Linked DNA regions of Homo sapiens: region 2 is linked to region 1. A link means that fine-mapping ties the variant in region 1 to the expression of a gene that starts in the linked region. Tissue or cell type: cerebellar hemisphere. Region 1 holds a variant in brackets; the other region holds the start of a gene. All regions are shown on one strand. Distances are between the middles of the regions.

What was found. PIP is the estimated chance that this variant, and not a neighbour inherited with it, causes the effect.
Region 2: it holds the start of TMCC3, and the variant in region 1 is fine-mapped to the expression of TMCC3 in cerebellar hemisphere (GTEx, PIP above 0.99). The same link has a PIP of 0.9 or more in cerebellum.

Annotation. Positions count from the first base shown.
Region 1 is chr12:94,749,155-94,757,338 of GRCh38, forward strand. No RefSeq gene overlaps it. Among named protein-coding and RNA genes, the nearest start is that of MIR492, 81 kb to the right of the region's middle. The variant A/G (reference allele first, on the strand shown) is at 4,319.
Region 2 is chr12:94,645,940-94,654,123 of GRCh38, forward strand. It overlaps TMCC3 (transmembrane and coiled-coil domain family 3), which reads right to left and starts at 4,618. Exons shown (of 4, transcript NM_020698.4): 1 at 4,414-4,618. The coding sequence starts at 4,491. LOC105369914 (a long non-coding RNA gene) reads left to right here and starts at 499. Exons shown (of 2, transcript XR_945225.4): 1 at 499-3,664; 2 at 4,966-5,063. RefSeq lists silencers at 3,862-3,991, 4,082-4,551, 4,572-4,741 and an enhancer at 4,070-4,785.

The DNA of each region.
Region 1 (8,184 bases):
CCCTATTTGTATCAGCCCAATGGAAATAATTTTTACTAGCTGTAGCCAAATGTATTCCTGACATAAAATGTAACGTAAACAGCTTTCCAGGCCATTAACTTTACAATATCATTTTAAATGGCTACAGAGTACTCTATCAAAGCGATGTACCACAATTCATTTAACCAGTTTTCTATTGTTCAACTTTTAGATCACTTTCCATTTAACTATTATGTACACTGGTCGAAGATTTTTGTAGACAAATCTTTGCAATTTTCATGATTGTTTTCTTAGAATAAACTCCTAGAGATGGAATTTCTTGATGAAGGGGCACGTATATTTTTTAAGGCCAATACCAGCTTGTACTCTTCTCGTTCTCTCCCTCGTACAAGGAATGCCATTTTAAAAAAATTAACAATCAGATGAGCCAAAACCAATACCTCATTACTACATAATTTCTAAGTTTCCTTTTATAACTAAACATCTCTGATGCAACTTGTGAAACATAGTAGAAGATTTGGATGTGGGTTTTAACGGGCTTTCGGCTGACTTCAGATTCATTTCCAAAGCAAAGAAAGCACTGCTTGGCAGTGTGTTACAACTCTAATTTGTACAAATCTTCCCATTATTGTGAGCCTGCTCTCATTTCAGCCGTATAGGGCCCCTCAACCAAAAGTCAATATAGAACATCTGCGGGGGCTGGGAGGGGAGCTACAAATGACTGGAAAATGGAACCCAGAGAGATGGGAGATTTCTGGGAAGAAACAAATTTTAAAATGAATAAGGAGAGAAGGGAGTAAAGAAAAGGAAGAAAGCCACCAGAATCAGGGTCCACACACTCAACTTTCAGGCACTCGCATTCTGGTTTTCCGCCTTGCCAAGGTTGCTTCCTGGCTCTGCGGTTCTGTTTGGAAAGTTGTCCCCTTAGGCACAGCAGCTACGTCTTTCTCATCCTTTGTGAGTCACCCCAAATAGTGCCTCTTCAGAGGAGTTTCCTCCAATCACCTGACCTAAAGTGGCTCTCACGTCTTCCCTGACCTTCGTATCATCCTATGTGATTTTCTTCATAGCACTGAAATGGTCTTGCTCAATGACAAGCATCCATGTTGATTGTCAAGTTCCCCCAGCAGAATGTACCCTCAACCTGAGCAGAAACCTCACTCTGTATCCTCAGCATCTAGAACAGTGCTCGGTCCGTACTGAATGCACAGACTGACAATTTCCTAACCTCTAACCAGACACACACTCAGAGATGATCATGGAAAGCAAAGGATGAACTAACTGCTCCGGGGCCTTGGGAAGTCTGCAGCTCCTGAAACCACACTTCAGAGAGCAGTAGAGAGTCCAGTGTCCCTAGGCAGCTGCCACTTCTCCTTCCCTGACTCATCAACTCCCACTCCACTGAAGTGGAGGGTCCAGGGGAGGGAGGGCCCAGCATCTAGGGCTGGCCATCTCCAAAGGGATGAGAGGGGTTACTGTCACATGGGGCTCTTCACACTTATTTCTGGTATTTTGCTCTTATCAGTATTTCAAATATTTTAATTTTTTCTTATGAAGATTTTCAAACAAACAAGGTAAAGGGAATGGTACAATGAACTAATGTATCCATCACCCTTCTTATTTCATCTCTTCTCTTACACTGTGTATGTGTACTGGAGCATTTTAAAGCAAAAATCAGACACATTAACAAAATGTTTAACTGTTCCTGTGTGCTGAGACTGCCTTCAGAGCCCTGGAATTGCACAGTACACATGCTAAGAGCACCAAGGGGTCAAGGTTTCTTGCTGATGCTCAATCTAATGGCAGCTTGCTGCTTTCTTCTCGTTGACATGCACAAAAAGGTAGATTTCCAACTAACTGCTTAAGAAAACATTCGGAGCAAACAAAGCCTTTGATCCCTGTGGAAAGCTTAGAAGATGCCAGGCAATTCTGCAAAAGCACTAGACGCTAAGCAGTAATAAACCAGGTCAAACGGACATGTCTGCCTGACACCCAGTTGTTTTGGTTGTCTCTTCTCCAGTTACTTAATTTCCCTGCTTACTGCCTTCTAGATCCCGGAAGGTGCCATGTTCACCAACTGGTACTGCCTTTTCCTTCTTCTCACGTGAACAAAATGAAAGTATTAATTAGAGGTGTCTCTGAGAACAAGTGAGGGAGCAAGTGTTTTTATGTAGCCATGGAGGGATGGGTCTTGGGAGAGTCAGAGCGGCTGGGCTCTCTGAAAGATGACCCAGTCAGTAATGGACACGCAGACACAACTGATCCCTGCTGGCTCAAGCATGGTGCCTGGAACAGGGCAAGCCTGAAATGAACTAAGGAATTAATGAATCAAATGAGTGAATCGGAATTGAAGAGGCTGGGGGATCAGCAGAACTCTGGATCCTGATCTCCCAGGCAACGCACTGTAAACAATGAGCAACTAAAACAAAACTTACAAAATAAGACATTAAAATACATTTTAAAATCTATCACCTTAACAGAAGAGTTACTTTCCTTCTTCCGTGTAAGTCTCTGTCATTTGAGGATTAGTTTTTATGCAGCTGCAATCTTGATACACGGGCAGTTTTATAAACACTCTTCCTCACTTAACACAGCAAACACGACCTGTGTTGTTAGTCTTCCTCAGAATTATTTTAAATGGCTGCATGTTTGCAGGTGTGCCAACACAGCCTAGCTTAAGTTACTTGTCTGCACTATTCCTTTCCTTTCCTTTTTTTTTTTTTTTTTTAAGACAGTCTTGCTCTGTCGCCCAGGCTGGAGTGCAGTGGTACGATCTTGGCTCACCACAACCTCTACCTCCCAGGTTCAAGCGATTCTCCTGCCTCAGCCTCCCTAGTAGCTGGGATTACAGGTACCTGCCACCAAGCCTGGCTAATTTTTGTATTTTTAGTAGAGACGGAGTTTCACCATGTTGACCAGGCTGGTCTCGAACTCCTGACCTCATGTGATCCATCCACCTCAGCCTCCCAAAGTGCTGGGATTACAGGCATGAGCCACCGCACCCGGCCTTCCTTTCCTTTTTCTTTGCACATTCATCTCCTTTTTTTTAGGGGTTAAAAGAAACTTTCCCCTGGCCTCATCTCCCACTCCCTCTTGCTGCGAGGCACCCGAACCATGAGCGCTCCCTCCCTCGAGGCATCAGCACATGCTGTTCCTTCTACATGCAACACTCTCTCAAAGTCCATTCGTTTGCCTAACCTATTCCTACCCACATTTCAGGGATCGGATTGTCACCCCAGGAAGCCTGCCCTGACCTTCGTAGATGCTTTAACATCCTGTACTTCAAGGGTGATGGTGCTCATCGTGGTCTGTAATTGCTTGTCTTAGGATCTGTTTGTCCCACCAGATTGTGAGCAGGACCTATTTTTTTGGAGCCTTATTAGCTAGGTGATCATGGTGAGCCTCAGTTTCCTCACCTGTAAAAGAGGATAGTCATGCACTCTTTCCCACCCACCAAAAAGGATGCTAAGGAGATCACACCAGGCAGTACTGTGAAGATTTTCTGTGCAGCATAAAGAAAATGATTTCAAATTCTATATCTGCCACCTAATCCTAAGGAACGAAAGGCAGTCACATCATCTTAACCCTTTGAGGCTCACAGTCAAATGATAGCTAACATTTATGAATATTTATGGACACTGTACTAGACAGTTTATATGCACTTCTCATTTTATCCTCATTACAAATGAATGGGACAGAATCTAGTATTATCCTCACTTTCCAGAGGCTCAGAAGACTAAATAGATTTCCCAAGTCTACACTGTTTCAGAATATGCTGCTGAGCACCCAGTGCAAGCCTCTTCCCATAAAAAAAATGCCCATACATACATCCACACAAAATAGTGCATACAATTTCCAAGTTCATGAGGCCCCTGAAGCCAAACTTCTTTTGATCCCTATTCTAGGCCTTGCATGCAGTAAAGTGAATTCTCCAGAGAAGCTCAAAGATTTATACACCCCACAGGGCTGGGAGGTTATGGGAATAAACTGTGTCAGCAAAAATTCTGGAGAAAACCTTGTAGCCTAGGAATGAGTTGTAAATCTTGAGGTCTCACTAGACACAGTTTCCTTGGCAACTTAAGTCACTGGGCTGACTGAAGACTCTTGGCCCAAGTAAGAGCCACATGGCATGAATCCTGTATTCTGATAAGCCAGGTGCTGGGAGAAGCTGGTAGTACTGCCAAACTACAGCCACCACCACCGACAGCCAGATACTTACTGGTATAGGCAGTTGCTGAAGATACTCACTGCTTGATGTACTTCATATACCGGAGAAACAACAGCTAAATGGAACATACGAGGCCTAAAGGAGCCAACGTGGGAGCAGGAATTGGAATTG[A/G]TCAAACCATCTGGCCTGAGACTGTGCTAATCTCAGAATGGCTTTGGATGCAGTGAGGCATCACTGTGGGTGTGAAAGGTGTGTCTCACACTGAGCAGAGTGAGAGCCAACACTTGGGTCAGAGGGAATGGCGCAACACCACCCTCTGCAGAGGATTCCGTGGGATTGTGCCATGAGCCAAATAAGCAATGAAAACGTGAAAAGCAAACCGGTGAGCCAGGCTGCATTTTTCATTGTGGCACTGTGTGGGCAAAGCCTTGGAGACCACCTGGGAATGGGATAAGATGAGCCAAAATGGTTTCCATGGCGAATGCTCCCAAAATCAAGAAACAAAGGCTTGGGGAGAGTGTGGTGTCCAGAAAAGCTGCCTGCTGAGCAGTGCAAGCTGTGACGGTCCTCACACGGAAGATGATGGAAGCCAGCAACTCTCCAGATCCCTTAGAAGAGGAGAAACGGGATGCAGCTGAAGAGACTGGTTGGGGTGAGGGTAAGGGAGAGCAGAGAGAACTCCCCACCCCTGAGAACTGTCAAGCTTGGAACTAAGCTACCAAGGGGACACACACAGGAATGGTGCCACAGCAGCCCCTAAATGTCGGGGAGGCAGGCATTTTGGTGGAAACAAAGTTTATTTTGCTTTTTAAACAAAAGAGGTGATAAGGGTCCTCTCTCAAACATATTTTTTTGATGGTCCACAAGTTAAACTACCGCCAGTGCAAAACAGGAGAAAATTATGGGTCCACAATCCTTTATCTGCAATTCTGAAATCCAAAACGTTCTGAAAACAGAAATTTTTTTCCTAAGTGTGTGCAAATCATTTGGAAGCAAAATCTGACCTGAAATGACATGAAGTTATCATAATCTTTACTTATCCCCATCTAATATGAATATGTCTTACTGAAGACACATTAACATGTCTCATTGCAAAGTGCTAACCCCAAGTCCCACTGGAGGCGTTAGATAAGGTGTAATAAGCAAAGAATTTCCTCCAAAACTTGGGGTAGGCAAAATTGTGGACACACATCTCCTTTTCTACAGGTCAGTAAAAACAAAAGAAATGTTTGACCACCTGGAACAGAATGAATGTAATAAAAAAAGGAACCTACCAGATCTCTTTAGCCTCCAGGTCGGAGGATGGCTTTGGGGCAATCGATGATATAGGTGTCCTCATGGGGTCCATGAACCAGACTACCCTTCTGTTTCTAATTCTAAATTATAATTTACATATTGTGTTTAGTTCTATTAGACTCTAGCTTTGCACCCATATAAATCCAAAGCAACTCCAGATTTTTCATTCATGCAGTGAAATCTGGGAGACTCTCTACTGGGATGAAAATGAAAATATTTAATAGGTAATACTGTCATTGGCTCTCCTGCTCCCCCTCCAGGAGAATATGAACTGGTAAACTTGATCTCTTTCATTTCTAGAGATCTATGATTTTAGAGGGGGAGAATAAAACAAAGTTAAATGAAGATGATGTGTTTTCTTGGAGATCTGAATAGTGTTTTCTTGATGAACAAGAGAAAGGACTCCAGATTTCCCATCAAATGATCCACTTTTCCTGTTCCATAATAGAAGGCCCATTTGGCAGGTTAAAGGATAAGAAAGGAAGATTTAAAAGGGAGTACACAATGGAATACTACTCAGCCATAAAAAAGAATGAATTAATGGCATTTCCAGCAACCTGGATGGGACTGGAAACTATGATTCTAAGTGAAATAATTCAGGAATGGAAAACCAAATATTGGATGTTCTCACTCATAAGTGGGAGCTAAGCTATGAGGATGCAAAGGCATAATAAAGACAAAATGGACTTTGTGGACTCAGGAGGAAAGGGTGGGAAGGGGGTGAGGGATAAAAGACTACAAATGGGGTGCAGTATATACTGCTTGGGTGATGGGTGCACCAGCATCTCATTAATCACCACTAAAAAACCACCTGTTCCCCAATAACCTATGGAAATACAAAATTTTAAAAATAAAATAAAAGGGAGTACAGATGGCTTTTAGCCAAAAAGACCTGGATTCAAAGCCAGACACTACCACTTAATAGCTGTGTAACCTTGGAAAGTTTACTTCACTGTGGCTGAATATCATCTGCAACCTAGAGAAAAACAATATTTTCTTCATAGGGTTTTTACGAGGATTAAATGGCATGTAAAACATACCTAATACATGGTAGGCACTCAATATATGGTAGCTATTATTATGGCTGTTGCTAGATTCGGGAGTTGAACAGTGCCTGGCTTCACTTCTTATTTCACCAGATTGCCTGGCTCAGCAAATGCAGGGGATATTGACTTCATGAGCACAGAAACAGTGGATAATAAACACACATAGCAACAAATCACATCGGTAAACCAATCTACCTCAGCTAATAACTGCTTTCCAGGCTCCTGCATTTGCTTTGTTAGAGGAACTAAATAGTTCCTAATGGCTATGGAACGAAATCATTTAGAAGAGGGTGAATTTCATCAGCTTTAGAGTTTCTGTTGAGGGCAGTGTAGGAGACTGTGCAAAGCCACCTCTTTTTAAAGAAAGCTAAGCAAAAATAATCCATAAATCATGTGAGTACCTATTACAGGTGCTTATGTAACTTACCATGTTTTCTAAGGAGAGGCTTATTTCCCATTCATTGAGGTGACATTTACTGAGCATGTCCAATGTACCAGCTACCATATTAAGTGCTAGAACACAAAAATAAAAAGACATAGGCCGAGCACAGTGGCTCACACCTGTAATCCCACTTTGGGAGGCCAAGGTGGAAGGATGGCTTGCGCCCAGGAATTTGAGACCAGCCTGGGCAACAGAGCAAGATCCCATCTCTACAAAAAAATTATTTTTAATTTAGCTTAATTTTTAAATGCATAGTGGTGCATACCTGTAGTCCTGGCTGCACAGGAGGCTGAGACAGGAGGATCACTGGAGCCCCAAAGTTGGAGGCTGCAGTGAACCGTGACTGCACCATTGCACTCCAGCCTGGGTTACAGTGAGACCCTGTCTCTTAAGAAATAAAATAAAAATAGAAAATCAAAAAGACATGAGCCCTTCTCTCCAGGAACCCAGGCCTGTGGGCGAGTATGTATGTGTTTTTTATGGTCCATGCTGGAAGTGGTAATGAGAGAGGGGTGCACAGGATGATACAGGGTGACTATCCAAAATAGACACTTCCCTAATGTAAGATAGTTCCACGACGCTGGAATTATATACAGTGAACACGTGTTACTTTTAAAACTAGGAACAAAAAAATGTAAAAGGAGAAACAAAGAACTCAAAGTCCAGTGGTGGAAACAGATTATATAACAAATATTCAAATAGTGGGATGAGTACCAAAATTCAAGGACATCAGAGTGTTTTGGGGGGAGTATTCTTCCTTTAGAAGAAAGGAAGGGCATTCCATACTGCCTGGGGGTAAAGATGACAAGGCAGGTTTCCTTAAGAAGGTGACACTCAAGCTGAGACCTTGAGACTGAATGATTTGCCGGTAGGAGTGTGTAAGTACAGTTTCTCTAGAGGGCAATCCAGCAATATTTATTAGTATTTAAAATGTGCATACTCCTTGAACCAGATGTTCCTCTTCTGGTATTTCAGCTGACAGGAATGCCAGAAAACATATCAAAAGATCTCTGTAAAAAAGATGTTTATCACGTCAATGTAATAATAAAACACTGGAAATAACTTAAATGTGCATCAATAGGACATTGTTTAAATAAGCTATGGTGTAGCCATATGCTAGAACAATAGAGTCATGAAAAAAATAAAATTTATATATAGCATATTAAGTTTTAAAAGGTAAGTTACAGAATAATGTATCCTTGTTTTTGTAGAAATAATTTTACATATTTTTTACACATAAAAACGTTTGCATA
Region 2 (8,184 bases), 100 kb before region 1:
TAAACATTTTATAGACATTACTGAATTTATTCCTCAAAACACCCCTATTATGTAGAAGTAGGAACTAAGGCTTAGAGTGATTACAGGATCCAAGATTACACTGGTAGCAAACAGCACTGGTACAAGATCTGTATTCTGGGGACTATCCTAATGCAAATGGTTCTGTAGGGAAAATAATATGGTCCTTGCATGCAGGATGGAACAGAAGTTGGTGAAGGTCATAAGTGACTAAGGTGGGGGATGATTGGGAGATATGGAAGAAACCAATTCCAGAGAAATGTCAGAGAAAGGTGCGGTGGTATTGCTAATAGGTTAGAGAGATGGGGGAGGGCAGGCACTCAAGATGACTAGCAGTTCTGATTAGTAGTGGCACCAACAAAATAGAAAAAAATTATTAACCTGACATATAGACAAATACAGCTTTTTCACCCAGTGAGAGAACATAAATTTAAAAAAATTTTTTTAAATAGCTAATATTTGAAAGCACACACCTTTTTTTTTTTTTTTTTTTTTTTTGAGAGGAAGTCTCACTCTTGTCCCCCAGGCTGGAGTGCAATGGCACGATCTCAGCTCTCTGCAATCTCCGCCTCCCGGGTTCAAGAGATTCTCCTGCCTCAGCCTTCCGAGTAGCTGGGATTACAGGCACCTGCCACCATGCCTGGTTAATTTTTGTATTTTTAGTAGAGACAGGGTTTCAACATGTTGGCCAGGTTGGTCTTGAACTCCTGACCTCAGGTGATCCACCTGCCTCGGCCTCCCAAAGTCCTGGGATTACAGGCGTGAGCCACCGTGCCTGGCTTTTTTTTTTTTTTTTAAAAAACAAATACTTTCTTATTTAAGACACACAATCACTCCCAGAAGAGTGGAGTATTACCTCTTTTACAGATGGGAAACTGGAGGCTCAGAAAGGCTATTTAGGACCTTGCCCCAGTGGTCACCCAGTTAAGAAGCTCGAAGAGCCAGAATACAACCCACGTAGGTCCAGAGCCCCAGCTGTCCACCACTATACTCAAGTGGCTGGAGAGGGCATTTTAGAACACTTAAAATGAAAACCAACTAAAAGAAAACCTAATTCACACATCATTAATAAAAGCCAGTTACTGTATAGAAAGCAGACGGCCTGTATTCTTAAAAAGATGATAGGCTTTAACTATCTAGGGCATGAAAAAAAAGTAGGAGTCTAATTATGGATGCTCTTTCTTCTAAAGTAGAGAGATATGTGCATCAAGTTAACAAGCACCATTTCTGAGTTTTACAAAGATGAAGTTTTAAAATGTGAATGATCCTGACTTGTCAGCTTAGCAACAATCACAGAATTCATTACTTACATTTTCACTAAGGGGGGAGGGGTTATCTAGGTCAGTCCACCTAGATGTAAAAATAGATTTCTGCAATGTTGAAAGAGTACACTGCCTCATTATTATTCCAGTCTCAAAGGCTGAAATAAGCCCAGCAAGACAGACCATGTAGTTTCCCTGTTATCTCAACAGGTATTGATTTTGAATTTAAAAAATGACCATTCAGTAACTAAGAACTTCATCTCATGGAGTCTTTGCCCACTTCTAGGCAGAAACTCCATATCCCTGAAAGATTAGTCGACTCTTCCCATGACCCCCTAGTTCTCATTGGCATTTTTAGGGGAGCTAATTCACCAAATGAGTTCATAAAAGGGTTCTTTTTAAATCCTATACTAGTTTCCTCCCAAGGAGATGGTGACATCAAGAAATTAGCACTCGATGTCTTCCTCTCGCATCACATACGTTCTGGGTGTCAGGAAAACATATCTTTACAGCTGCATCCAAGTGAGTTCCACAATACAGGAGCTACGATCATTTAAATGGATGAATACTTTCTGCACAGTAAAATTGTTGCTTTCCCTTCATTACAACAGACTTATTGTAGCCTCAGGACAGACTTGAAATTACATCAACCCTGCTTGAGAAAAGTTATTATTATGAGTTTACAAAAATTTCACTAGTTCTACCTATTCCTCGCTGTCTCAACAATAAAAAACCTAAAAGCAGATAGCTGAGAAGTTTCAACTGGGACCTCAAGAAGTCCAGCATCACTGTAGTAGAATTTGTGATTACGGTCTGCTGAAGTTCTAGCCCTTCTCTGATTTCCTCTCTTCACTAGATCTGACTGGCCCAATGTGCTAATTTACGATAATCCGCACATATAATGTCTAACTCAGTTTTAATACACAGCTTATTTAAAAATCGGGTATCTCCATGCTAACAATACAAGGCAGCAGGTACAATAACATTGTCAGTAGAATTGTTTTATTTATTTATTTATTTATTTATTTATTTATTTAAAGACAGAGTCTCGCTCTGTGCCCAGGCTGACGCGATCTCGGTTCACTGCAACCTCCGCCTCCCGGGTTCAAGTGATTCTCCGCCTCACCCTCCCGAGTAGCTGGGATTACAGGCGCCCACCACCACGCCCGGCTAATTTTTGTATTTTTAGTAGAGACAGGGTTTCACCATCTCGGCCAGGCTGGTCTTGAACTCCTGACCTGGTGATCCACCTATCTCGGCCTCTCAAAGTGGTGGGATTACAGGCATGAGCCACCGCCCCCGGCCCGTCAGCAGAATTTTAAAGAAAATCAAGAAATCACATAAGGTTTTGACCTTTTAATAGAAAAGACTGGCGTAGACAGGCAACAGTGGCAGATGCGGCAGAAACACTCTGCAGTTACCTTACACAATTGCTTTACCACATTCCACCTAAGCAGTTGAGGCACAAACTTTATCACCACCATTTTACAGGTTATGAAGAGTGAGTTTTGTAAAGTTGCATGAGTTTTGCCAAACCACTTAAATGAGTTGACAATGAGCCATCCATCCCGCTAAGATTACTAATCTTGTTTACACAAAGAAGATCACAGTTGTGACAAGAAAAAACAAGCTTTCACATTTCAAGTCTGCAATATTAACTTTACAGAATCCTCTCAATTACAAATGCATTCGAAGATGATCTCCTTTTCTTCATAGTTCTGTTAACTAGCATTACAGCTATCCAAGAAGAAATGTCTACCTGTGGGTAAGCACATTTCTTCAATGTTTATTCCAAATGGAGTTTCTGGTTATTTTCACAGCAAACTGTTACGAAACTTATACACAAAGTGCAAAAACAAGAGAATTGTAAGATTGAGATGAGTGCATGAGGTATTATTCCACCAAATATATTCAATCTGTAAAAACTCAAATCATCCTTCCAAAATGATTAACAGATGCTAAAGGAAAAAGGGAAAGCGGGCAAATAAACCAGAGACTCATTGCTTCACTTCTGGGGCAATCGATTACTACTTCAAATTATGAGTGAAGACCAAAATCCTGCACAAAGGGCCGCGACACAACCCCGTCACTATTGCTACTATTTCCATCCAGTTGGTCTCTCGATCTTGGAAGTGGCAGGCCAGAATCTGAGCCCGGCTCTCCCTCCGTGAACTTTACACAGAGGCTGACACCCAAATCCCCAGTTCTCGGACAAGCGAGTAAGTAGTTGGCGGAGCAAAGAACAACTCCAGGTGCCTCCTGCCAGAACAGATGCCAGCGTGGAGGAGGTGCTTTGTTAAATGGCACTTCAATCAGCCCTGGGGAGAACGGGTTACAGAGCCTCACATCCAGCCTCGACGATTCAACAGCCCGGGAGGGCAAAGGTATTCACCGGGGAGGGCGAAGGCTTCCTCTCCCAGGACAGACCCGCGCTTGGGCTGCGGCCTCCGTCTTTATTTTGAAGCCCTACAGGGCTCGTCTCTGCAGCAGGCTCAGAATGAGCTATTTTCGCCCACAGCCAAAATCAGCAACAGCAAATTACACTGCAAACAATGGCGAGGGCGCCTGCTCGGCTCGGCTCGAAACTCCGGAGAGGCAGCGCAAAGATTCTGACTTTTCACTTGGGCAGAGCCCGTCCGCCGCCTCCCCGCGCTCCGGCTGCGCACCGCGCTCGGGTTCCGGCCACACGCCCCGAGGACAGGGAGACAGGGCGGCCGCCGGGACGTTCGGCGGGGAGGGCACCGTCACACCCAGGGCGAGACCCCGGAGACCTGGAGACGCGGGGCCGCGGGTGGCCGGGTGGCGGGATTCCCTCGCGGAGCGGCGGGCGCTCCCTGGCGGGGAGGACAGCAGAGCGCGGGCCGTCGGGGAACCGGGCGTCCCGCATAGCGCGCGGGGACCTGGGCGCCGTGAGGGGCAGGCGGACCTGGGATCCCAGAACCGCAGCCTGGGCTCCGACGCCCCCGACGCCCACCCTTTTAGCTCGGAGGATCGGGGAGGCACGGACCTCCGGCGGCAGCGGAGGGCGGCGGCGAAACGCCGGGGGCGCGTGGGTTAGCACTGAGCCGCCGCCCCAGCCCGCCTCGCCCCCGGGCCCGCGCGCACCCGCCGCCCCCCAGCCCGCTGCGCTCACCCGGCTCTTGCAGCGGTGGTGCCGGCCGGGGTACGAGTAGGTCCGGTCCACGGTGAGCGCCGTGTCGCTGCCCGGCATCTCCGCGCTCCGGCCGCGAACTTTCCCGTCTTCTGGGGCTGCCGCGCCGCGAGCCACCGGCTGTGCTCGGGATCACCCTGGGAGCCGCGGGCGAGGGGGCGGCGCGGCTGCTGCAGCTGTTGCCTCTGGTGCCAACACCCGCGCGGCCGCCCTGCGCCGCCGCCGCCGCGGGGTGGGGGAGGCGGGGCAGGAGGCGAGAGTCTCCTCCCCCTTCCCTTCTCCCCGCCTCTCCCGCGCCCCGCAGCCGCCTGGACCCCCCACCCACCCCCGACCCGGGAGGCAATGTCTTCGCCTCCCTCCCTGGCTGAAAGTTGATTCCATCCCCTCCCACACAGCCCTCTTTCTCCCCAAAAGATAAGCGACATCCACACTACACTATCTGTTGACTTATTTTATATATAAAAGGTGACTGTTACTGCAAGAAGTTGACACTTGCCTTAAATGCCTCTTTTTATGTTATTCTCCATTCAACAGGCACTTACTGGGCAGCTGCCATGTACCAGACGCTGGACTAGAGACCAGAGATTTAAAGTAAAAAAATGAAATAAAATAAAAACTCCCCCCGACCATGATTGCCCTGAGCATAGAGCATACTTCCACTTAAACTAAGATCCTACTGTGTTGTGTATTTTAATTTTGCATATCTGGCTCACCTTTATGTTTCTTTCTTTTTTTTTTTTTTTTGAGACTGAGTCTCGCTCTGTCACCCAGGCTGGAGTGCAGTGGCGCAATCTCGGCTCACTGCAAGCTCCGCCTCCCGGGTTCACGCCATTCTCCTGCCTCAGCCTCCCAAGTAGCTGGGACTACAGGCGCCTGCCACCACACCCAGCTAAATTTTTTTGTATTTTTAGTAGAGACGGGATTTCACCATGTTAGCCAGGATGGTCTCGATCTCCCGACCTCGTGATCCACCTGCCCTAGCCTCCCAAAGTGCTGGGATTACAGGCGTGAGCCACTGTGCCCAGCTTACCTTTATGTTTTAAGCTACTTGGAAGTCAGGATATCTTTTCATTTTAGTATTCCCCATTCCCAGTCATCAGTCCCTGCCCACAAGGAATTTGGAGTTTAGAAGAGGAAGGACCATTGGTGAACAATTTAAATATCAGTAACCCCAAACAAAATTCAAAACACCTGTTCTGGCTCTGTAGGGTGTACAGTGGGAGACTGGGCTGAAATATTTAAAGTGCAGCTGTTCCAGAGAGGACCTGGAGCCCAGTGTGACCAGTCCAGGGGGAGGGAAGGATTTCCCTCATAGGGTTCAAAGGGGACGGTAGAGCAGGCTGAAGAAAACTTTGGAGCCCCTAAAATCAGAGGTACATTTGGGAAAACCTCAAGTCATCAGTTTTGGGGAGTGTCCTCAGGAACAGGAAGACATGATGGAAAAGAAGGCAGAGACCATGCAGAATCTTCGTTCAAGGGTAAGAAGTTCAGCCTTATTCTGTGGGAACTGGGTAGCTGTTGGAAATTCTTGAACAGGGAAATGATAGCATGGGAATGGAAGTTTAAGGAGAAGGTATATCTGACATCAGGGTGAAGCAGCGATTGAAGATGGGCAAAACACACTGGCTTCTTAGAAGGCCACTGTAAAGACAGAATAGCCTAATTATCCTTCAGAAGGAGACTAAGTAAATAAATGATGGTACATCATCCAATAGAATATTAGGTAACTGGAATAGAAATGAGGCAGCCCTCTATGAATAGCTTTGGAAGCAAATCTAACATACATGGTTCAGTGGAAAAAAAGCAATGTGCAGGATAATATATATGGCATTCCACCATTTATGTAAAAACAATATATGTTATGTGCTTCTACATGCACGACATATATCTGGGAGGATAAATAAGAAACTAGGGAAACAGACAAGAAATTGATGCCAAGAGAGGGGAACCAGGTAGCTAGAAGGCAGAGATGGAGAGAGATCTAATTTTCACTGTGTATACTTTTGAAACTTGAATGTTTATACTGTGGGCATATATTAACTATTCAGAAAGTAAAATTTTTTAAAAAATGTTTTTTAGAGATAGGGTATCTGTTGCCCAGGCTGGGGTGCAGTGGCACAATCATAGCTCACTGCAGCCTCAAATTCTTGGTCTCAAGGGATCCTCCCACTTCAGTTTCCCAAGTAGCTAGAACTACAGGTGTGTGCCACCATTTCTGGCTAATTTTAAAAATATATTTTTTTGTAGAGAAAGGGTTAAAACTAACTTAAGAAGAAATTGAAAGTCCCATGTAGTCCTTAAGCCATTCAAAAAATTAAATCAACACTTTTAAAAATACCCATCTACCACTACCCCAACACACAACTATACTAGACCCAGAGAGTTTTTCAGGTAAGTTCTTTGAAAGAAGAGAAATACCAAACGCTGGGGTGTGTGTGTGTGTGTGTGTGTGTGTGTGTGTGTGTTGGAGGGAGATTTTAGCTAGGGTGGCTAGAGAAGTCCTCCATGATAAGGTGACCTTGAGCAGAGACTTGGGAAATGAGGAAGCCAGAAGTATAGACATTGAAAATTTCCAGCAGACAAACAGAAAGTCAAGGGCCCTGAACATTTCGGGAGTGTTCAAGGAAGAGCAAGGAGGCCAGTGTTCACTGGAAAGAGATGAGGTCAGAGACATTTCAGAGGGCCAGATCATATATGGACTTTCATTCTATTTTAAGAACTTTAATTTTAGGCAGGGCGTGGTGGCTCACGCCTGTAATCCCAGCACTTCAGGAGGCTGAGGTGGGCCGATCACCTGAGGTCAGCAGTTCAAGATCAGCCTGACCAACATGGAGAAAATCTGTTTCTACCAAAAATACAAAATTAGCCGGACATGGTGGCGCATGCCTGTAATCCCAGCTACTCAGGAGTCTGAGACAGGAGAATCGCTTGAACTCAGGAGGCAGAGGTTGTAGTGAGCCAAGATCATGCCATTGCACTCCAGCCTGGGCAACAAAAGCAAAACTCTGACTCAAAGAAAAAAAAAAAAGAAAAGAAAGAACTTTAATTTTGGGGAATATGGGAAGATTTGGAAATTTTTGAGCAAAGGAGTGGCATGATCTACCTTTTCACTTGGATGAAAATAAAATTGATCTCTACCTCACAGCATAAACAAAAACCAATACCAGATAAAGGAAAAATAAAGAAAAAAAATTAGCTGGACATGGTGGCTTGCACCTGTAATCCCAGCTGTTCAGGAGGCTGAAGCAAGAGGTTCACTTGAGGCCAGGAATTCAGCCTGGGCAACAGAGCAAGACCTGTCTCTAAAAAAATTAAAAATTAAAAAAAAAAAACAGATTAAAGACTTAAAGTGGAAAAAACACAACTTAAAATTGTCAGAAGAAAATGAAAGAATATCATTATTATCATCTCAAGTAAAAAAAAAAACAAGACACAAAAAGCATAAACCACAAAGGTTTGACATTAAAAAAATTAAACTTCTGCTTATGAAAATAAACAATAAAGTAAAAAAATAAGCCACAGACCAAACTCCAGCTAAAAAAAAAAATCAATATGGACAAATTTCACAAACAATACTGAGAAACAAAAAAAGCAAGCCACAAAAAATTACTTGCAGTAAGATTCATGTAGGCTGTGTGGTAGCTCATGTCTATAATCCCAGCACTTTAGGAGGCTGAGGTGGGAGGATCACTTGAGCCCAGGAGTTCGAGACCAGCCTGGGCAATATAGTGAGACCTTGTCTCCACAAAAAAA